2 separate regions of the Homo sapiens genome follow, and region 2 is linked to region 1. The links come from fine-mapping of genetic effects on gene expression. Tissue or cell type: aorta. Region 1 holds a variant in brackets; the other region holds the start of a gene. All regions are shown on one strand. Distances are between the middles of the regions. Region 1 overlaps SNX7 (sorting nexin 7). Region 2 holds the start of SNX7 (sorting nexin 7).

Region 1 (12,040 bases):
CCCTGGGTGACAGAGCGAGACTCTGTCTCGAAAAAAGAAAAAAAGAAAAAAGATGCACAAAAGCTTCCAAACAAAAGCTTCCAAACTGTAGAAATAACTGGGTTTGATAACATATATCCAACTTAGAAATATCATGTATTTCATAAAGTGCATTTGGAGTATAAATAATGCTTCTAACATAGAATACAGTTTTCTATGGAAGCAACATTGAAAATGCTGGCCAATTTTTCATGTTTGACCATAAAAGCTTGGGTATTTGAAGTTTAGTACTAATGAACTTGTGTGATCTCTACCCCCAAAAGCATTTATTCCAAAAATACCAACCTTCAGTCAAGTGTGAACAGTTATTCTAAACTCATTATTTAGAAAACTTTTTTTGAGGGAAAATGAAACTTAATAGTCAGTTCAGCCAATCAAGAATACAGCTTAACTCCTAACTATACAATGACAGGCATTTATAGGTTTGTTTTCACAAAGAGGAAGTGGAAGGAAAGTACCTTGTTAAATCTCTTCATTCTTACTCTTATATGTACTAAGAGAACGTACATCTTTAGATCTCCAAAAGAGAAAATACTTCTCTATAACAGTCACTTAAAATATGCTAACCTAGACAACAAAGGGTAATTTCCCATAAAAAGAACAGATGCCACAAATGTGGTCTTCCCGATACAATCATTCACAGTTGGATCATTCTTAAGTATTCCTAAATAGGTGATTGTCCATGTATGTATGTGTATATTCATTTACCCTTACAATCCTTAGTACCCATGAATATAAATATTTACAAAACTAAGATTTTCCCAGGAAAGCCATCTTTCAACCTCCAAATTAGATGGTGTATCCCATGCTCATAATATCCAATATTTTTCCTTCAAAATATTTATAACTATAAAGAAATTACTTAGTATATGATATGGTTTGGCTGTGTCCCCATCCAAATCTCATCTTGAATTGTAATAATCCCCATGTGTCAAGGGCGGGGCCAGGTGAAGATAATTGAATCATAGGGGCAGTTCCCCCATACTGTTTTCATGGTAGTGAATAAGGCTCATGATATCTGATGGTTTTATAAATGGGGGTTTTCCTGCACAAGCTCTCTCTTGCCTGCTTCCATGTAAGATGTGTCTTGCTTCCCCCTTGCTTTCTGCCATGATTGTGAGCCCCCTACTCCAGCCATGTGGAACTGTGAGTCAATTAAATGTCCCGCCTTTATAAATTACCCAGTACTGGGTATGTCTTTATTACCAACATGAGAACAAACTAACACAGTACAAAATTAATTATTTAATATCATCATATGCAAACACCCCTTCTTCAGAGTGAAAACACCAGGAAAGCAGAAAGTTCCTTTTGTCAGACCTATCCTGATCACTGATATATTCTTAATATATAAGCACAATACTTGGGACAAACGGGGTACTCAATAAAACTTGTGGAATAAGTAAGTAAATGATAATAAGAAAAGACTATTTGATAACATGATCTACATGTACTATTTATATATTTGTATCTGTAATATATATTTCTGTATATATAGATATAGTCTATATACTATGAAATAGTAAAAGTAATTAGAAGTAGAACAATGGAAGTCATTTATAATAGTTAAACTGAAAGTTTACCACATCCATACCTAAATGCACAAAAATATAATAGAAAAAATGTATACTATGAAAGTAAACTGTTTGGATTTAAATCCCAGCTCAGCTAATTACAATGTTGTGTAACCTTTAACAAGCTACTAAGTTTCGGTGTCCTCGTGCATGAAATGGGGGTAAATCATAATATCTACGTTTGAGGATTACTGTGAGCCTAAATGAGTTAACATGTAGAAACTGGTTAGAATATTACCTGGCACAAAGCAGTCACACAGTAAATGTTTGCTAGTTTATATATTTTCATATTATTATTACTACTACTATTACTACTTCTATAAGACCAGTCCATTTAAAGTATGTGTAAATAGAAAAACTCAGAAGAGCAGTATGTCTATGATCAGAATGAAACTCACAAGGTGGCTTTAGAAAGAGTGTCTTTCTGAGAGACGCAAATGATGGAAAAATAATTCAGTTTCACAAATTATTTGCTAGAATGGATAATGACAATAGATAATTATAACAGTAGTAATAGAAGAAATTTGGCTCTACTCTAGCAGTATGCCTGTATTAACATATTCAATCTTCATAAAGACCTTATGAGGTTAGTACTGTTATCCTATTTACAAACAAGAAAACTAATATAGAGAGGTTAATTAAATTGTCCAAGTCACATAGCAAGGAAGGAGAGAAATCAAGATTCAACTCCATGTTGTCTTGCTCTACCACATCTTGATATAGCTAAGATAATTCCTTCACTCATTCATCAACAAAATAAATAGTTTACTTATTATGTCCTAAGATTTGTGTTTGGAATTATGGATAACTTAAAATATAGTTACCTTCCTTGAGAAACTCACAAACTCACTGAGAATAAATACAAATAAACATCTATTCACATACAGGTAGATGGCAATTACTGAACACTTATCGTGTGTTAGGCACTTTACTAAGTGGGGTGTGCATTGATTACTTATTCTACTGCAACCCTACAGAAGTGAGTTCTATTATCTCAGTTTCATTGATTTAAAAAAACAGCTTAGTTGGATTAAATATATGCTTTTGATATTTTGCTATATTGACTCTTATGTTTTACATTCCTTAAGAGTTCAATAGAACAGTATGAGAAAACAGAGGAAGAATAACTATTTCAGCCAGGGGACAGTAACAACTAGAGAAGCTTTCACAGGCATCTAACATTTTGAGTTGTATATTGAAAACTAAGCATGACTTCTTCTGTCTAAGAAGGGGATGGACACAGCAAACAGAAGGAAAACTATATGCAGTTTTGAGAGCAAGAGATCCCCTAAATATTCAGAAAACAGAAGCAGCTCTACCTGAGTGGAAAGCAAGGTACTGAATGTGAGGTGTAACAAATAAGTCTTATATGGTAAGTGGGCACCAGACTGAGAAGCCTCTTTATATGTCATACAAGAAAGTCGGCACTTTGCTCTGCCTGAAATAAGGGGCCAAGAAAGGATTTTAAGAATTCAAGTGAAGAAATAAGATATATATATCTTCAGGAAACATAACTAATAGCAGTGTGGCAGTTTCATTGGAAGAAGTGATTATAGAAACATAGTTCAGAACTTTTTCAGCTAAAAAAAGAGATGTACTTTTTACATTTATGAAATATAAAAGTCTAGGGTGACGCTTCATAAACAAAATATTATAAAGAGAATTATTTTCAAATGCTATTAAATAAAGGACTTAAAATACAGATTATACTAGGTGGTTGCTTAATTGTGTCTGAGGTAAATTGTCTTTGTAGCACTTCGCCCTACGATTAAAGAGATCTGTGTTCTAGATCTACTTTGCTCTTGAATTATTGCACACATAACAGTATCTCATACATGAGACAAAGTGGCCACCTGTCCCACTTTGAAAAACAAATGGTACCATATTTTATAATCTTCCAAAGAAATCTGAATACATAATATTGCGAACTGTTTAAGCATTTTCTTTTTTTATTAACAACTTGAGGCCCATCTTTTCCAAAGGTATTTCTTAATACTTTTTTAAACTAAAAACCTAGATATTCTTATTCTAAGAAGTATAGCTGCTATAAAATGAGTGACTATTTCTCAAGTCAAGTTGAATTTCACTGACTTAATACAGAACAAGTGAAGGGCAGATAAGAAGCAATGTGTTAGCCAAAAGGTTTGAAAAAGTAAAAGTCAATTCAGCTAAGATCTTGGAATGTTCAGAATTATAATGAACAAGAGGTACTTACTTCCAAAGCTTAAAAAAAAGCAGCTATATTCAAGAAAATATTCACCAAATGTTTACCTTAGTAATAATCCTATACGTAATGAAAGTTTCTATTGTAGTAACATGACTTTCAGGTTCATCAACTGTGATGAAGAGATCCTTTAAATCTGGTTCATCCTCAAACTTGATTTGGTTTATCATTGATAAAGGGGATGTTGGCATCATAGGGCTGAAGGAGTTCATGTCCATCAATGAGGCATCCTAAGAAATAAAACATTCAAAAATTAGTATCAATAGAAAAATTAAACTCTTCTATTTCTAGATGCTATCAATATTAATGAAATATATCAAGAACAAAAGGGATTATTGGACTTTTAGTTAAATGTGGTATACTGAACATGTATTTTTATCTGTTTCCTCTTGAAAATCCCACCCAAAAGATGACAGTAAAGAAAGAAACAAACAAATGAAAAGTATAAACCCTCAAGGATTGCTATGGTTTGAATGTTTCTGTTCCCTCCAAATGTCATGTTGAAACTTAATCCCCAATGCAATAGTATTAAGAGGTGGAGCCTTTAAAGGTGAGTAAGTCATAAGGGTAGAGCCCTCATGAATGGTACTAGCCACCTTATAAGAGGGCTGTAGGGAACGAGCTAGTGCCTCTCCTGCCCTTTCACTGTCTGCCATGTGGGGACACAACAAAAAGACACACACCATCTTGAAGCTGAGAGCATCCCTTGCCAGAGGCCAAAACTGCCAGCATATTGATCTTGAACTTCCCAGCCTCCAGAACTGTGAGAAATCAATTTCTATTATTTATAAATTACCCAGTCTCAGATATTTTGTCACAGTAGCACTAATGGACTCAGGCAAGAATAAGAAGAAAAAAACTATGGTAAACGAAATGTGCCAACTGCTTTTTGGAAACTGGAGATCTGATCGTCAAGTGGTAACTAAAATAGCAGTGCAGAGAAAACTGAAAAGTAATCTAGAAGAGAACAGTAAACTAGGAAGAGGCAAGGATATTTATGATGTAGAATGCCAGAAAGGTTCAAGAATTGGAGGCACCAAGAACCTGTGGACATAAAGGTTGTGGCAGAGCAGAAACCAGATGATTGGTTATTAAGAAGATCTAATAAAACAAGAGTTAGAACCTCAGATTCCCTCACCTACCCTAGGCAATCAGGTAACTTTCCCACCCCAATTTGGTAGAACACTGGAAGTCTACTTTCTGAAAGGTCTGAGCTCGAGGGCATCCAGTAGGATAGGGAAGAAGTCCTATGAAAATACAGATATCAAGTGAAAGTCCTGCATACCAGACTAAAAGACATGCAAACCTGTTCATCTGGTCCCAAGAACGTTGGCAGGAAGGTGCAACCCCCACCCCATCATAGTCCATTCAGGCTGTTATTAAAGAAAACTACAATAAACTAGGTAGCTTACAAACAACAGAAATTTATTTCTCACAGTTCTAAACTAGGAAGTCCAAGATCAAGATGTCAGCAGATTCAGCGTCTGGTGAGGGCCCACTTTACAGAACAGCTTCCTTTCACTATAATCTCACATGGTAAAAGGGGGGAGGGTCTCTCTGGGGTCCTTTATAAGGGCACCAATCCTAATCATGAGAGCTCCACGCTCATGATCTAATCACCACCCAAAGGCTCCACCTCCTACTATCATCAGCTTGGCAGTAGCATTTCTATGTATGAATTCTGGGTGGACACAAATATTCATACCACAGCACCCACCATAGTTGGAAGTTTCCTCTCTTAGCTGATCTTGGAGAAAAACTGACAGTTGTAGTCCCCTAATGAATTAGCCAGGTCTCTGCATAACCACCCTACATCAAAGCCCCTACCATGCATGCAGAATGTCTACTCTGCTTTTTATTATTTGGTGTAGGATCTACCAAACATCCAAACACGAGGAAAGGCTCTGACGTGAAATAAAGTCACAAACAAACCAAAACAGAAGATTAGAGGAAGCAGATAGAACAGAGCATAAACACTTTTTAAAAAACCATGAAATCACCAGAAAGATAAGAGAAAATATTAAATCCATGAATGAAAGCATGCTCTTTTTAAAAAGAAAATTCAGAGAACAGCAACACCACCAACCAAAAAAGAGACTCATGAAAATTAAAATATGATAGCAATATAAAAATGCAACAGAAAGTCTGAAAATCAGAGCTCAAGAACTGTCCTACTATGTGAACCAAAAGAACAAGAGATGGAAAATGAGAAGATTTTTTAAATTGAAGGATACAGGCAGGCAGTGCCTGAATAAAAGGAATTCCAGAAAATGAGAAAGAAAAATATCCTTGACATAAAGTTGATAGGGCCTGTGAGGTCTCCCCAAAATGAACAGGACACTGGTTGGGTAGGTAGTACTCCTACAAGCATCCATCACCATGACATTTCATAACACTAGAGATTTTTAAATTCCCTAAAGATTTAAGAAACAATATAAGTAAAATAAAGGAGGAATCTTGGGAATCAGAATGGCATCAGAGTTCTTAAATGGTGATGCTGGAAACTACATGATAATAAACTAATGTCTTCAAAATTTTGAGAGAAAAGTATTTTCAACCTAGAATTATACATATCCAGGCAATTGTCATTCAAATATACAGGTAGAATTAAGCCATTTCAGAAATAGAAGATTTCAAAAACTTACTTCCCATGTACCTATTCTTTGGAAGCTTCTTTACTTCTCCAAAATAAGAGAATATGCCAAGAAAGAAAAAAATAGAATCTAAAAACAAGAGATACAACAGAAGATCAAAGTAAAGGGAATTCCCTGGAAAATAATGTTCTACATTGACAGTTTTGCAGCAAACCTAGAGAACAGCCCATATACACTGGACCAGGAAAATAAATATCCAGGGTATCAAGGAGATGACAAGGAGAAAGAATAAAGGAAGCGAGGGATGAAGGAAAAGGGGATGGTGGAGAACAGAATACGAAAGGGGAATAAGCAGAGGAGGAAAGGAAA[C/A]AGAGAAGGTGAGAGAGAAAAACAAGGAAGAAAGGGAATTAAAAAAAGGAAGTAAAAGAAGGACAAAAAAAGGAAGAAAAGAAAACTGATAATGACATAAATGTGATAGGAAGCATGCCTATGTTAGATCTGTAGATAAATTATAATTGGTGTAAGAAAGTTAAGGAGAGAGAAAGCAAAAGAGAGAAAAGGAGGGATGAGAAAACTTTTACTTATTGAGAGTAAGCTAGAAACATGTTGCCCCATTATTCCTAAATAGGTCTGTGTGTATTTTCAGAAAACAAGAATACTCTCCTACCTAACCATAGTACCGATCCAGGTATTTGAATCGGGAAATTAGCACTGACGCAATACAACAGTCTAATCCACAGACCCTTTTGAATTTCTCTGTCCCAAAAATATCCTAAAATGTTCTTCCCCTCTAGTACAGAACTAAATCCAGGTTCATCTGTTACATTTAACTGTTATATCTCTGGTCCCCTTCAATCCGGAACCATTTCTCACCTTTCACTTTCTATTATGGTATAGACCTATTCGAAGCTACTTTATAGGCAATGTTTCCTTTCTCTCAAATATATACATACGTTTTTCTCTCTCCCATCATCTTATCACCATTTTAAGGTAGATAGAGGTTTAAGAAAAAAATTATTTTTATTCACAGCCAAGCCATATAGTGAATTATGATTACATTTTCATTCTTCTACTGCTTTAAAAAATATCTTATAGTGATAAGGTCTTGCTATGTTGCCCTGGCTGGTCTCAAACTCCTGGCTTCAAACAATCCTCCTGCCTTGACCTGTGACAAGGTTTGGTTGTGTCCCCACCCAAATCTTATCTTGAATTGTAACTCCCACGATTCCCATGTGTCATGGGAGGAAACTGGTGGGAGATAATTGAATCATGGGGGCGGGTCTTTCCCGTGCTGTTCTCCTGATAGTGAATAAGTCTCATGAGATCTGATGGTTTCAAAAATGGGAGTTTCCCTTCACAAGTTCTTTCGGCCTGCTGCCATCCATGTAAGATGTGACTTACTCCTCCTTGCTTTTCACCATGATTGTGATGCTTCCCCAGCCACGTGGAATTGTAAGTCATTAAACCCTTTTCCTATACAAATGCCCCAGTCTCAGGTATGTCTTTATCAGCAGCATGAAAATGGACTAACACAGTAAATTGGTACTAAGAGTGGGGCACTGCTGAAAAGATACCTGAAAATGTGGAAGCAACTTTGGAATTGGACAACAGGTAGAGGCTGGAACAGTTTGGAGAGCTCAGATGAAGACAGGAAAATGTGGGAAAGTTTGGAACTTCCTAGAGACTTGTTCAATGACTTTGACTAAAATGCTGATAATGACATGGACAATGAAACCCAGGCTGAGGTGATCACAGATGGAGATGAGGAACTTGTTGGGAACTGGAGCAAAGGTGACTCTTGCTATGTTTTAGCAAAGAGACTGGTGGCATTTTGCCCCTGCCCTAGAGATTTGTGGAACTTTAAACTTGAGAGAGATGATTTAGGGTATCTAGTGGATGAAATTTCTGAGCAGCAAAGCATTCAAGAGGTGACTTGGGTGCTGTTTAAGGCGTTTAGTTTTACAAGGGAAGCGGAGCATAAAAGTCCAGAACTTTTGCAGCCTGATAATGTGATAGAAAAGAAAATCCCATTTTCTGAGGAGAAATTCAAGCCAGCTGCAGAAATTTGCATAAGTAACAAGGAACTGAATGTTAATCCCCAAGACAGTGGGGAAAATCTCTCCAGGGCATGCCAGAGGTCTTCATGGCAGCCCCTCTCAGCATAGGCCCACAGGCCTAGGAGGAAAAGGTGGTTTTGTGGGCTGGGCTCAGGGTCCCCATACTGTGTGCCGCCTAGGGACTTGGTGTCCTGTGTCCCAGCCACTCCAGCTGCTTCAGCTATGGCTGAAAGGGGCCAACATAGAGCTCAGGTCATGGTTTCAGAGGGTGCAAGCCTCAAGCCTTGGCAGCTTCCACACAGTGTTGGGACAGACAATGCACCAAAGTCAAGAATTAGGGTTTAGGAACCTCCACCTAGATTTCAGAGGATGTATGGAAATGCCTGTATGTCCAGTCAGAAGTTTGCTATAGGGATGGAGCTCTCATGGAGAACCTCTGCTAGGGCAGTACAAAAGGGAAATGTGGGGTTGGAGCCCCCACACAGAGTCCCTACTGGGGCACCACCTAGTGGAGCTGTGAGAAGAGGGCCATCATCCTCCAGGCCCCAGAATGGTAGATCCACTGACAGCTCGCACTGTGCCTCTGGAAAAGCCACAGACAGACACGCAATGCCAGCCCATGAAAGCAGACAGATGGGAGGCTATACCCTGCAAAGCCACAGGGGCAGAGCTGCCCAAGACCATGGGAACCCACCTCTTGCATCAGTGTGACCTGTATGTGAGACATGGAGTCAAAGGAGATCATTTTGGAGTTTTAAGATTTGACTACCCCACTGGATTTCAGACTTGCATGAGCCTGTAGCCCCTTTGTTTTGGCCAATTTCTCCCATTTGGAATGGGTATATTTACCCAATGTCTGTACCCCCATTGTATCTAGGAAGTGACTAACCTTTTGATATTAGAAGCTCATAGGTGGAAGGGACTTGCCTTGTCTCACGTGAGACTTTGGACTGCAGACTTTTGAGTTAATGCTGAAATGAGATGAAACTTTGGGGACTGTTGGGAGGGCATGATTGTTTTTGATATGTGAGGACATGAGATTTGGGAGGCGCCAGGGGTGGAGTGATATGGTTTGGCTGTGTCCCCACTCAAATCTCATCTTGAATTGTAACTCCCACAATTCTCATGTGTTGTGGGATGAACCTGGTGGAAGGTAATTGAATCATAGAGGCAGGTCTTCACATGCTGTTCTCATGACAATGAATACGTTTCACGAGATTTGATGGTTTTAAAAATGGGAGTTTCCCTGCACAAGCTCTTTTGCCCTGCTGCCATCCATGTAAGATGAGACTTGCTCCTCCTTGCCTTTCACCATGATTGAGGCTCCCCCAGCCATGCAGAATTGTAAGTCCATTAAACCCTTTTTCCTATATAAATTGCCCAGTCTTGGTTATGTCTTTATCAGCAGTGTGAAAACACATTAATAGTGTGAAAACAGATTAATACATCCTGCCAGAGTGCTGGAATTGCAGGTGTGAGCCACTGTGCCAGCCCAGTTTTTGTTTTCCTGAGTGTTCATTATTCATTTATTCATTCCCTCTCACTCCAAACTATATTAGTGTATATATGTATACTGCTATTTTTTATTTTTCAATGTTGATACCATCAATAGGTTTTCCACTAAGGAGACTAAAGAGTATAATATTTTGTTTAAATTAATTATATGACTATAGACTCAAATTAATTATATGACTACAGATTCACAGATTCCTATTTTATTCAGTGGATATAATTCATTAACATCATAATTTATTTTGATGTCTAAACAGTCCCAAGTTTGACAAGTGGGAGCCCCTTAAAGCTGCACCAGTATGTTTTTGCTATGTCTTCATTATTCTTTGAGCACTTTACTTTTTAGAACAAGATGTTTCAAGTTTATAATATTTTGTTATTTCCCTGCCCAAGCTCTGGAATGAGACATTTCTCCGAGGAGCTCTGGTTCCTTTTAGAGAAGATTGGTATTTACAAAACCAAGATATTAATGCTAGGAAATAAATATATGAGACATACACATACATATGTACACTGATATAGTTTGGATGTTTGCCCTCTCCAAATCTCATGTTGAAATGTGACCCCCAATGTTGGCAGTGAGGCCTAGTGGGAGGTGTCTGGATCATTAGGGTGAATCCCTCATGAATGGCTTGGAGCCATCCTCATGTTAATGAGTAAGTTCTCAGTCTATGAGTTCAGGCAATATCTGATTTATTAAAAGACCCTGGATCGTCCTCTTTCTCTTGCTCCCTCTCTGGCCACATGACATGCTGGCCGTCCTTCACCTTTCGCTACAATCGTAAGCTGCCTAAAGCCCTCACTACAGGTAGATGCCAGCACCATGCTTCCTGTACAGCATGCAGAACCATGAGCCAAAATGAACCTCTTTTCTTTATAAATGACCCAGCCTCAGGTATTTCTTTATAGCAATGCAAGAACAGACTAACACACACACACACACACACACACACACACACACGCACACACACACAGACTCATACAGCTCTAGATCTATGGCTAGATACAGATATAAAATACCAAGAGTTCACAAATTAGAATGATATACCTCTATTTCTTTTTTTTTTTTTTTTTGAGACAGCGTCTCGCTCTGTCACCCAGGCTGGAGTGCAGTGGTGCGATCTGGGCTCACTGCAACCTCCACCTCCCGGGTTCAAGCAATTCTCCTGCGTCAGACTCCCGAGTAGCTGGGATTACAGGTGCCTGCCACCACGCCTGGTTAATTTTTGTATTTTTAGTAGAGACGGGGTTTCACCATCTTGGCCAGGCTGGTCTTGAACTCCTGACCTCGTGATCCACCCACCTCGGCCTACCAAAGTGCTGGGATTACAGGCATGAGTCACTGCCCCTGGCCTATATACCTCTATTTCTAATTTGACATGTCATGGCTTGTCTAGCCTTTCCCTTTTCCATATTTATAACTCTTTTAGTCAGCAGTGAGAAACCTGGCTCCTATTATCCCAAATGTTTACTTATTGGCTCAATTCCCCTGTATGTAACCAATCTCCCAACCACACCGGCTTCCTCCTCTGCTCTGACCACGTAGGCCAAGGCAGCCTTATTCTCAACCCCAACCATGCAGGATGCCTCCTCAGCTTCAATTTCAATTGGCAACACTGGTCATCTGCTCAGTCACCTTCAATAGTTTTGTCTAAATAAAAGAAAGAAAAAGATGGGAAAGGAAGGGCTACATGTTATTCTTTATAAATAAAATTAACTGAAACATAAGGATAATTACAGTAAACTTTAAATTCAAATAATGGTTCTTTCACATGCAAAGATAAAACTAACACTCTCAATAGAATATTTGAGTTATCTCTGCAGTGGTAGTAAGAACTTGTTCTCCAACTCTATACTTTTTCTTTTAGATACATTTGTTCCCCTAAAGTAGTGATACAGATGTTGGAATCAAAAGTTTTGTCTGTTGTTATGTGTAAGATTATAAAGTTAACTGATGTATTTGAATATTAAATCTGCAACAAAGCCCATTTTAGCTTAGCAACAAAGTTGGCCAGTACTGAGTAAAAAAAAAATCATAAA
Region 2 (12,040 bases), 20 kb after region 1:
ATGGTTAACAGAACATATCATCAGTGAAATCCCTTAGTGGACTCTCTTTCATGGATAGCAAATACGTGTGTCAAAACTGTTGCTACTTCCTGTGCCAAAGGAAGACAGTGTTAATGGATCTAAGCCCTCTTTCTAAGCTCAGACCAGATTTCAGCTCCATCTTAACACAGTATTCCAAAGAATCCATAACAAGGCACTGGCATCTGAAGATGAGGCCTTATTCCTCTGCCATTTTTTGACATCAACTGTTAATTCTCCTTTTAAAATGCTGAGAGTGGAATGGATCTTCTGAAGTGGCATGGAGAGTTCAAATTTACATTAAAATTAATACCCTATATGACCTTGAAAATATGGTGTTTAAATTCAATATCATGTCATTTGTGTATACTGGTTTTTCAGTCACTGAAAACCACTAGGAATGTTTGCACATAAAATGGTCCTATACAAGGTCTCCCCAAACTTATTCTGAAGTTTCCTTGTTTTGGTTTTATTGTTGATCATATATGCTACCTCAAAAAGAGAAACTTAGAGCTTTTCACCTTCTTTCTATTTCACCTACCTAGACTTCCTCCCCAAGGAGAAATATAAAAGAATACTTAACCTATAAGAGAGCTATAATGGCACAGAGTGAAATTTTTTGCAAGAGAAATATAAGTAGTCCTGGATCAGCCCTATTTTGTTTTATTGTTTTTTTTGTTTGTTTGTTTTGTTTTTTTTGTTTTTTTTTTCCTAATCATCAAAATGGTAAGGCCCACTAAGACAAGATCAGGATGTAGGCCTTAGGGAAAGGGGAACATACATATTAGGGCATGTAATCGTCATTAGTATTTATCCTCATTTTACAGATGAAAAATCTGACGCATTGACATTAAGTTACTTGCCTTAGGCAATAATACTAGTAAGCAGTGCAGCCAGGATTTCAAATGCAGGCAATGTAGTTAGAGTCCCTACTCCTGGACCAGGTGTGGTGGCTCACACCTGCAATCTCAGCACTTTGGGAGGCCGAGGTGGGCAGATCACCTGAGGTCAGGAATTCGAGACCAGCCTGGACAACATGGCAAAACCCCATCTCTACTAAAAATACAAAAAAAAAAAATGCTGGGTGTGGCAGTGTGCACCTGTAGTCCCAGCTACTGGGGAGGCTGAGGTAGGAGGATAGCTTGAGCCTTGGGAGGTGGAGGTTGCAGTGAGCCAAAATCACGCCACTGCACTCTAGCCTGGGTGACAGAGTGAGACCTTGTCTCAAATAAAAAGAAAAGAGAGTTTCTACTCCTAACCACTAAGCTTATATCTTAATGGTATTTTTACTTACAATGACTAATGGAGCTTTCTTCAGAACTTCATATTTATCCCAATTAAATTCCATAGTCTACTTCTGAATACAATGTTCTAACTTATCAAAAGATTTGGAAGGCTGATTATGATATACAGACTATTAGCTATTGTTATAGTTACTACTGCTGTGTAACAAACAATCTGAAAACATAGTCGTATAAAACGATTTTATTGTTTTAGATTTTATTATGCTCACTGGTTTATGCAGGAATTCAGGAAGCACACAGCAGAAATGTCTTGTCTCTCCTCCATTATACATGAGGGCTCAACTGAAAAGACTTGATGGCTGAGGGCACATGAATGCTGGAGGCTGAAATCATACAGACATCTTCACATGAAAGCCTGCCACTTAATGCTGGATAGTGCCAGGGACTTCGGCTAGGGCTGCTGACCAAGCATTTACATATGGTTTCAATGTAACATGGGTTTCCTAACATGGAGGTTTTAGGTTGCATTTCTTACATGGTGCTCCAAAAAGCACAGTGTCCCACTGGACAACACGAAACCTACATTCCCTTTCATGATCTAGCCTGGGAAGTTGCACAGCATCACTTCCACCATATCCTATAGATCAAGGCAGTCATAATCCCACCCAAGTTCAAGGAAAGCAGCACTTATACCATCTCTCCGTAGGAGAGTGGCAGGTCACATCATAGAAGAGCATATACAATGAGAGATACTGACACAGTCACCTTTATTGAAAGTAACTCTCCACATTGTTGTACTATGTCCTACGACCCCACCCATCTATTTTCTGTGCCCTAGGAGGCTGGCACCTATAGATGACATCACCTTAGCAAGACCACTCAAAGAGGAGTGCAAGCAGGAGATCCAAAGGCAGGAGGAGAGGAATTCAGGGAACATACCCCTTATTTCCTCCTGCTTTGGCACGTTTCCGGCAGTAGCTACCTCTCTCTGTAAATGCAGTTCCTGAAGAAGTGTCCCCATCTCCACAGCTCCAGGTCTGACTGGTTTCCAGCAATGCTATTTCCATTTCTTGTCCCTTTAAAGCTAGGGATGCTAATAGCTTTTTCCCACTACAACTCTCTAAATGCCTCAGTATTCCTTGTTTGTTCACTAACTCTGCCAATAATTCCATAAATAGTCCCCGCATTCAACTCTCATTTAAATCATTGGAGAGAATTCTGATTTTTATCAGAGTGATGACTGATATAGGCACACAACAGAAACCAAATAGACTGTGCAGAGAATATATGTGAGAAATTAGTAAGCAGGACTTCCTAATCTTTTTCTAATTATTTGATAGAATAGATGAATAGTATAATTATGCCGCTCCATCACTATACTGAATTTCCAAATTGACAAAGAAAAAAATATATATATACATATAAAGATATGTATACATGTGTATGTTAGATGTCTCAACTTTATTCTTTCAGAAATAAACTTTTCAGCTGGGCACGGTGGCTCACGCCTGTAATCCCTGCACTTTGGGAGGCCGAGACGGGTGGATCACTTGAGGTCAGGAGTTTGAGACCAGCCTGGCCAACATGATGAAACCCTGTCTCTACTAAAAATACAAAAAATTAGCCAGGCATGGTGGCGCATGCCTGTAATCCCAGCTACTCAGGAGGCTGAGGCAGGAGAATTGCTTGAACCCGGGAGGCAGAGGTTGCAGTGAGCCAAGATTGTGCCACTGCACTCCAACCTAGATAATAAGAGCAAAACTCCATCTCAAAAAATAAACAAATAAATAAATAACCTTTTCTGAAGAAATGAGTGATTTTTTTCAAAAGCCTTGCTCAATCATGTCATTATAACTCTGATTTACCATAAACACAATCTTAAGTCTTTCATTATTCTTATAAAACTTGTAGCTTCTATTGATCATGTTTTTTTCAAAGTGTGTATAAACAACATACTAAATAATTCATTTCATGGCTTTTTTGGAGATTGAAATGAAACCTACTGTTCGCTACCTTCCAGAACTCCCATTTTGCCCATTATTTTTAAAAACAATATTTACCTATCTCTAGTTTCAGGGAACCATTATTGCATTTCATGATTTCTCAAAGATGACTAGTGGTGATGAGGATGATTACACCTGTAAGTTCCCTGATTATCCTAGATGATATATATCTCACTTTTATGATCCCGAATATCTTTAAAGAGGCCAATTAGAGCTATCATTTACTGAGTACCAGATAAGCATCTCAGTGCTTCATTGTGGCCTAATCACATACACTGTATCCACAGCTGTTTCTTTTATACAGTATTCAATAAAAATAAAGGCAATTTATTTTAATTTATTGTTTTTCCCCAAAGAGGAGGATTTTTTCCTTTAAACGTGAAGAAACTGGCCCTTTTTCTCCAGTTAAATTTTTTGGAAGCCTCATCTCATTGTGACCTAGTTCTAAAATAATTCTTAGGCTCTTGTTACCATTTGTGTATCTTTTTTATTTTTTTATTTTTACTGTTTTTGTATGATTGGTTCTGTTCTCTTCCTTCTAACATCTATCCCCGTTCTTTTAAATCAATGTCCTCTGCATTCTCTTGAGGTCTGGCATCATTTTCTTCTCACTGGATTATAAGAAAATTCAGAACAACTTTGTTTTACTTTCCATCCCTCTTGATTTATATTGCCATTTAGAGTTTGTCACATCTTCCCACCTGGAGTATAAGATTGTGATAGCAAGAACTAAATCTTGTATTTCTTTTTTTTAAAGCATACTTAACACAAAATGTATATTTGCCATGTACTTGTAATACGTTGTGGAAAAAAAATAATAAGAAGTTGTTTTGTTTTTCTTTTGAGACAGAGTCTCACTCCGTCACTCAGGTGGGAATGCAGTGGCGTGATCTCTCAGCCCACTGCAACCTCTGCATCCCGGGTTCAAGAGATTCTCCTGCCTCAGCTTCCCGGTTAGCTAGGATTAAAGGCTCCCACCACCACACCCGGCTAATTTTTATATTTTTAGTAAAGATGGGGTTTCACTATGTTGGCCAGGCTGGTTGTGAACTCCTGACTTCAAGTGATCCGCTAGCCTCAGCCTCCCAAAGTGCTGGGGAAATTCATACTCTTTAAAAAGCTTCTGGAAGAGTATACCAGACACATATTCACAAATAATCTAAGAGAATAAGGGGACTATAAAGGTGAATGTAAATTAAATATGTAGTTTGCCAATCTCAAATTACTAAAAGGGAAGGACAGTTTGCTTCATAAGTAATTGTGAGATTCCATCCTAGGATAGGCTGAACAGCAGTGGTGTTTGTTTTATAGAGGAGCAGGCAAGGAAGGTAGTGGAAAGGGAAGGCCACGTGGAGCAGGCTTTCTTAAATTTGCTTAACTACAGATAACGGTTGAGAAATTCAACTTACTGAAATGGATGAAAGTGGCTAATTTTAAACTTTTCCAACTACTCTTGTTGGATTTTCACTAATATTATATCTTTGCCTTAATCTATGTGGGCAGTTTCTACAGAAGTTGTTCTTAACTTTTTCTAAGCATCCAACACGCGCAGTTAACACTAACAAGCAGGGTGGACCCAGGTGTACGGGCTTTTAGAGTTTGGAAGGTCCCCTTTTAAAAGAATACAAAATTAGGTGGAAAAACACATTATTCAGAATGAGAAAAGAAATCTCAATAAATGATTGGAGCCATGGAGATCTAGATTCCTTAGTCTGAGAGAGCTTTAGGCAATTCACCAGAAATGCTTATTTAGAAATGCTTCTGGTCGGGACCTGTCATTTCCTTCCCACCTAGAACATCTGCGACTCCAGCAACCCCCAACACGCCCAGAGGTCTAAGCAAACGAATAGCGCTGAAGCTTCAATTTCATTAGCTTCACCTTGGATCTGCCTCTGACAAGAGGACCTCATTTAAACATTGATTCTTAAGAGTCAGCTAGAACACCTAGAATCTGGGGAAAGAGAAACCACTTGACAAGTTTAAAACAATCCGAGTCACTGTGGCTCAAGCCTGTAATCCCAAACCCTTTGGGTGCTGGAGGTGGTAGAATCCCTTGAGGCCAGATGGGTCCAGCCCCGACAAAAAAAAAAAAAAAAAAAAAAAAAAAAAAAAAAAAAAACCAGAAAGAAACCCTGATGATTCTGATACACCATTGCTATTTCCAACATCCCATCCCAAAGTTTCACAATGCATAACCATAGACTAATATTCCTTATCCAAACAGCAATGTAAAGAAGGAAAGAAAGTAAATAACCAACTGGCCAACTGTCGTTGATCTGAACATGAAGTATGTGTGGAATATAAAAAGGCAGAGTTTACAACTAAACATAAAATAATTCCATTGTTTTACTACTTAACAGAAAAGTCAAGAGCACAAAACTGTGATAGTCTGTTTAAATATTCGGAATACAAACCTGGGCCTATCATTCCATTTAAACCGAAGTAGAAATAAGTTTTATATACTCCTCTTTGGAGTCAGAGTATGCATGGTCACTTCCTAACTTTGGTTTGCTCTCCCAGAGTAAATGCGGTGGTTAAGTAGGTCGTTTGCTTTACCTAATATCTCCAGGTAACGTTAAAATGAACAGGCTTCTTAGTAATGAATACAGCGTTGTGATCTGAACTCAGGTCTTCTCTCAGCAGCAACTTGAGAAACTGGAGTGACATTCAACCTCCCTGCAAGAAAGGTATTTTTCTTTTCTAAAACCCTTTAAGAAATTACAAACACCAGTCTACACGTACCAAAAGTCTACCACTAGCCCCCACAAGTCAATTTCCCTCCAACAGTAAAATAAGCAAATAAGAGCCTTTGGTCCTAAATTTCCCGGGGGCAAGGAAAAACGAAAGCACTGGCTGTGGGTTGGGTGGCAGTAGCTGACCATCTGAAAAATCCTTAGCTCCTCAGCGGAGGAGCTTCCTGTTAGAAACAACCGTTTTCTCCTGTTCAGGGAGATTTCCTAGAACCTATTCCCACAAGACCCGAGACTCACCCAAGTCTCAAATCCACAAGCAACAACACTAAATTAAGAATAATTTCTCTAAACTTGGCTGCTCTCCCAGAGTTCAGGGCTGGCCTCGCCCGAAAAGCAGCTGGCGGGAGCGGTTTTGAGCCACCAGCCTCCCAGGTTCGGGAGCTGCCGCGAGGAAGATGTCTGTGTCAGAGAAGCAGAAAGGGAAAACAAATCACAACTTTGCAGACTCCACTAAGCCACAGCCCCGCCGAACGGAAGGTCAAAGTGCGGAGGAGGGAGCGGCTGCGGTTTGAGGCCCCGAGGCGACGCGGCCCCGGGTGCGGCCAGAGCTGGCAGGCGGGGTCCAGCAGCCCGGGGGACCTCACTCGTCCCCAGCTCAGAGCCACCGCCCCGGGAGGGCAAGCGCGCCAGAGGCAGCCGTCGGCGCAATGCTGGCAACGCCCGGAGTTGCCTTGGAAGTTTCCCGGGACTCGCCGCCGCCGCCCTCACCTTGCTGAACACCTCCAGGTCGTCCTCGTCCTCGTCCAGATCCAGCACCTCCGCCTGCAGCAGGGCGGAAGAGCCACTGCTGCCCGGAAAGGGGGCGCCGCCCCCCGGGCTCTCCCCGTTGGCGCCCCCGGCCGGGAGGCCCGAGGAGGGCGCCTGCGATGCCCGGCGCTCGCCCTCCATCCCGAGAGTGCGCGCCCAGCCGGCCGCCACCGCCGCCGCCAGCCCGGCTCCCCCGAGCGTGCCCATTGGCTCCCACGTCTCCTGCACCTCCCCGGCCGGCCCCGCTCCAGCCCCTCGCCCGCTGCGCAGACGCGGAACTGCCGGGACCAGCGCTGGCCCGGGCCGGGCGCATCCCCACCTGGCCTGGGGCGGGCTGGAGGGGCGGAACTGGGACTCTCGGACTCCGGCTACGTTGGAGAAAGGGTTGGCTGTACCCTGGAGAAGAGGAGAGACTCAAAGGTAGGAGGTGGGCGTCCTCGCATTGACCCAGTCGGGGGCCACCGAGTGACGGTTTCCGCAGTGGCGGGGTCTGGGAAGAAGCCACGAAGCGAACCGTCCACTTCGCGGGATCCACAGCGAGGCTGGAAGGCACCCGACCCAGCCTTGCCAAGAGAAAAAAAAAAAACAGCAATAACAATACTGTATTTCCTGTATTCAGTGGTTGCCTTTCTTCTTGGTTGTGATTTTCGAGCTAATGTAAAAATAAAGACATGAAAACTTCCCGTTTTGTTAATTGATTTTTGACCCAGTGACTGGCCTGTGCGGTCATTTCACTGTCGAGCCAGGAAAGCTGAGCTTTACAAACTATTTTCAGCCACTTTCAAATGCATCTTTACTCCTGGACGTCTTCCTGAAGTTAATGAGCAGAATGTTACCAAGACCCAAGGACAACTAGCAAGTCTGGAAAATTGCCACCGAGAAATAATCTTCAGTCCTTGCATTGCCAAGGCAAAGCTTTAATTATTTAACTGCTTATTATTCAAAAACAAAACTAAGTTCCAAAACTAATGGAAAATTTTGCCCACGTTGATATATTCTTTAATTTATCTTCAGGTTTTATTTACTTCCGTCAGCCCCACCTCTTTTCTGTAGGCCCATTTAAAAATTTTTAAATACATTAAGCTCTATGTAAGAATTCCTTATTTGGGGAAATAGAGAATATCTTTATTTCTGATTAGAGGCAAGGCCTTAATAATATATTATCTCCTAATCATTCAAATGTATTCCCATTGATTTCAGACGTGCACCCACCCTTCAGTCAGGTTGGTCACTGCCCCATGAGTATCCACATTTGTTTCTGTGCTTGATGATTTCTGTACTTTAAATGCCATCTCCTGCCCATCCTTCAGAAATTAAATATAGTCCCATCTCTTTCAGAAAGACTTTCTAAATGACAGTCTGTTCTCAATTTAGCATTTAATTTTATTCCATCTTGCAGATTGTATTTGTTTCATGTACAAGTTTTCCATTCCTTAGTAAATGATAACATTTTCAGGTTGAGGATCCTGATATGTATTAACCACAGTATCAGATGTACTCTCAAAATGCTCTCTGCTAATTTCTGTAAATAATATAAGTTATTAAAAGACTTTATTTTTTCCTTGATAAGCTTATTCTGACTAGTAAGGAAGATTCAAGGTTTTCTAATTGCAATCTGAACCAGGAAATTCTTAATAATGCTGTAACTCACAGAATTGCTAGAAACCATAGAGAATGGGCTCAGAAAATGGGCAGAATAAAGCAAGGCTGCACAGCTTGGATTATAGCCAAAAGCAAGGCCACAGAACCAGTGGTACAGACATTGCTGCTACCATTGCCTGATACTGGTTGCCACACCATCTTCACCAGTGTCAATATTGTCATTAACACTGATGTTACTGGACTCCAGTTGCTTTCCCTGGCAGCAGTACCACAGCTACCTCTGAGAACTTCCCTGCTATTACTGCCACAAAAATGTCTCCATCACCCTGTTTCTCTGTGTTGATTTTTCTAGTATTAAAACCCTGGAGAGTATGTGTGCTTGGCCAATCTGGCCAAGTTTCATGGAAATTCCTAAGGCAGAGAATTTTCTAAACATAGAAAGGCCATATTGATGCTTGTCAACCAAAAACAAGAAAAATAGGAAGAGGGGTAGGATGAGGAAGAAGAGTAGGGAAAACGTGACTATAATTTGCCCCTTTGGCTGTCCAATTAATATTACCTTTCTTCACATACTCCCCCTACCTCCATGCTTTGAGCACCTGAGCATGCAGTTCACAGCCCCTCAAAGGGAGATAATCCCAAACCTACTCATTATTAGTACAACTCCAAAGCAGTATGTCTATTCCTCCTGTAGTCTCAGCTTCCTATTAAGTGGGACTATCACTGGGTTTTTTTGTTTGTTTGTTTGTTTGTTTTTGAGACAGAGTCTCACTCCCTCGCCGAGGCTAGAGTGCAGTGGCGTGATCTCTGCTCACTGCAACCTCCGCCTCCCGGGTTCAAGCGATTCTCCTGCCTCAGCCTCCTGAGTAGGTGGGACTACAGGCGTGCGCCACCACGCCCAGCTAATTTTTTGTATTTTTAGTAGAGACAGGGTTTCACCATGTTGGCCAGAATGGTCTCGATCTCTTGACTGCATGATCCACCCGCCTCGGCCTCCCAAAGTGCTGGGATTACAGGCTTAAGCCACCGTGCCCAGCCTATCACTAGGTTTTTTAATGGAAGAATTCTTACTTGGGTACTAAAGCCTTTAAACCAGCATAGTCCAAAACTTGGAGTGCAAGTATAATATTAAGAGCAGCCCTACCCACTCCTGTCCTGTTTAAGAGAAATAATATCATACATTAATTTATGGTTTCATGAATATACATCTTGTCAAAAAGCTTTCTCTCCCTTATACTTTCCAGATGGGATCTCTTCAGACCATAACTGGATCTTTAATATTCAATTCCACCATCTATGAAGTCTGCTGTTTCTAGTAATGGGTTTTGTGATGAGACAAGTTACCCCATGGGCATTGCCCAAAGGCTTTACTTCTTTTGCTAGAAAGTGATTTAACTAGTTAGAAAAAAATATAATGTGCAAAATCTACTGAGGAATAGACCAGTCAATAAGTTCATGGACGAGCGTGTTGAGGGAAATCTGATGAGCAGAAAAAGCAAAGCCAATTTGACTTTTCCACTAAAGACAAATCATGGCATCCTCCAGTGTGGCAGGGTAAGGGTCCTGCATAGTTGCTGTGGCAAGCTGAGTGCTGAGCAATGGAAGCAGCCAATTATCCTTTAGTGAGAGGAAATCCTTATTTTTGAGCCAATGCATAGCATAAATCCCTGCCACCATGGCCACATGGTATGTGAAGCCATAGAACAAGCACTGGAGTTTCTAGAAAAGCAGTAAGATTAACATCCACAGGAGAATAAGCATTATTTTCAAACTTATTTCTGATGACATAAATTCATCAAATGAAAAGGCTTTTTTGGAGAGCATTGTTGTGGGCTACATACAAATATGCTTTTATTCTGGGGCCATTCCAAGAAAGTCACCTACATACATTTTCTCAAACCTTCTTGACCCCGAGATCCTACCTTGTTTCTTCTAAGTCTCATCAAGTCAAACCTCTAGCCTTTGTCCTGGAAAGAGCATAGAAGCCTCATTCTAACTGCCCTTTGAAGCATAGTGGGCACTGTTGTATACCAAGAGGAGGATTTCCCTTGTCCACTGCCCTTTTGCACTGCAATAACTACTAACTGATTCCCGCAAATGATAAAGATCCATCTGTAAACCAACTTTGGAGTTTTTACCCCTTAGTTAACTGTTCAGATAAAACTCCCTATGAGATCATAGGGGTAGACCTGCTGAGAGTAAAAGCCAAATGCTCATGCAATGTATGCTTATAGGACCACTTTCAAATATTACATTTCCACATGAGCATGGCTTGCTGAAGTAAGGCTGGATCAATTTTAGGATTTTTTTCATTATAGCACCCATTTCATGAGGAGCTGCTTGGATCACATAGTCACCTGATGTCACATGCTTATGTATCTAGTTGATATTGTTTGGCTATTTGTCCCCTCCTAAAGTTATGTTGAAGTGTGATCCCAAATGTTGGAGGTGGGGCCTAATGGGAGATGTTTGGGTCATGGGGGAGGATCTCTCATGAATGGCTTGGTGCCCTCCCTGTGGTAGTGAGTGAGTTCTTGCTCTATTAGTTCACACAAGAAATGATTGTTTAAAAAAAAAGAGCATAGCACCTATCTCTCTCTCTCTCACTCTGACTCTTTTTCTGAATCTCTCTCTCTCGCTCACTCCCTCTCTTGTCCTATGACATGCCTGTCTGTGCCCCCTTTGCCTTCTGCCATGAGTGTAAGCTTCCTGAGGCCTCAGCAGAAGCCAAGAAAATGCTGATGCCATGCTTGTACAGGCTTCAGAACTGTGAGCTAAATTAATCTCTCTTCTTTATAAATTACCCAGCCTCAGGTATTCCTTCATAGCAATACAAAACAGACTAACGCACTCATCTTCGCCAAAACCTGGTAACAAGCCAATGGCTGGTTTCTTAAATCTATCAGAGAGAGCACATTTTGCTCTAAAACATTAGTCTTTTTGATTTTCTTTCAGAACTTGTCACAGGCCCCACAGAGTATCCTTATTCTCTACAGGCTCATCAGTAATATTAACAGTGAAAGGTAGGCCAAGCGTGGTGGCTCACGCCTGTAATCCCAGCACTTTGGGAGGCTGAGGCTGGCAGATCACGAGGTCAGGAGATCGAGACCATCCTGGCTAACACGGTGAAACCCTGTCTCAACTAAAAAAAAAAAGAAAAAGAAAGAAAAAATTAGCCAGGCGTGGTGGTGGGCGCCTGTAGTCCCAGTTACTCAGGAGGCTGAGGCAGGAGAATGGTGTGAACCCGGGAGGCGGAGCTTGCAGTGAGCCGATATCGCGCCACTGCACTCCAGCCTGGGCAACAGAGCGAGACTCTGTCTCAAAAAAACAAAAAACAAAACAAAACAAAAAAAAAACAGTGAAAGGTAGTGAATGTCTACTTGAGTCAGACACTCTTATAAGTGCTTTATGCATGGGCACTCATTTAATCTTCACAAACACCTTAGGATGTAGACGCTATTATTACCATCCCCATTTTACAGATGAGGAGACTGATGAACAGAGAAGTTTAGTAATTTACCCAAGGTAAGTAATAAGTGGGAAATAATTTACTCCTCACTGAAAAGAATGTTACATAATGTTGTCTTTAAAAATAGAAAAGAGGCCAAATATGGTGGCTCATGCCTGTAATCCTAGCACTTTGGGAGGTTGAAGCAGAAGGATAACTTGAGTA

The links. PIP is the estimated chance that this variant, and not a neighbour inherited with it, causes the effect.
Region 2: it holds the start of SNX7, and the variant in region 1 is fine-mapped to the expression of SNX7 in aorta (GTEx, PIP above 0.99). The same link has a PIP of 0.9 or more in esophagus mucosa.

What each region holds. Positions count from the first base shown.
Region 1 is chr1:98,676,912-98,688,951 of GRCh38, reverse strand. SNX7 (sorting nexin 7) reads right to left here. Exons shown (of 9, transcript NM_015976.5): 2 at 3,885-4,067. Among named protein-coding and RNA genes, the nearest start is that of SNX7, 21 kb to the right of the region's middle. The variant C/A (reference allele first, on the strand shown) is at 6,801.
Region 2 is chr1:98,656,598-98,668,637 of GRCh38, reverse strand. SNX7 (sorting nexin 7) reads right to left here and starts at 6,917. Exons shown (of 9, transcript NM_015976.5): 1 at 6,727-6,917. The coding sequence starts at 6,906. SNX7-DT (SNX7 divergent transcript) reads left to right here and starts at 7,866. Exons shown (of 1, transcript NR_189290.1): 1 at 7,866-8,331. RefSeq lists silencers at 6,536-6,605, 6,836-6,955, 6,976-7,115.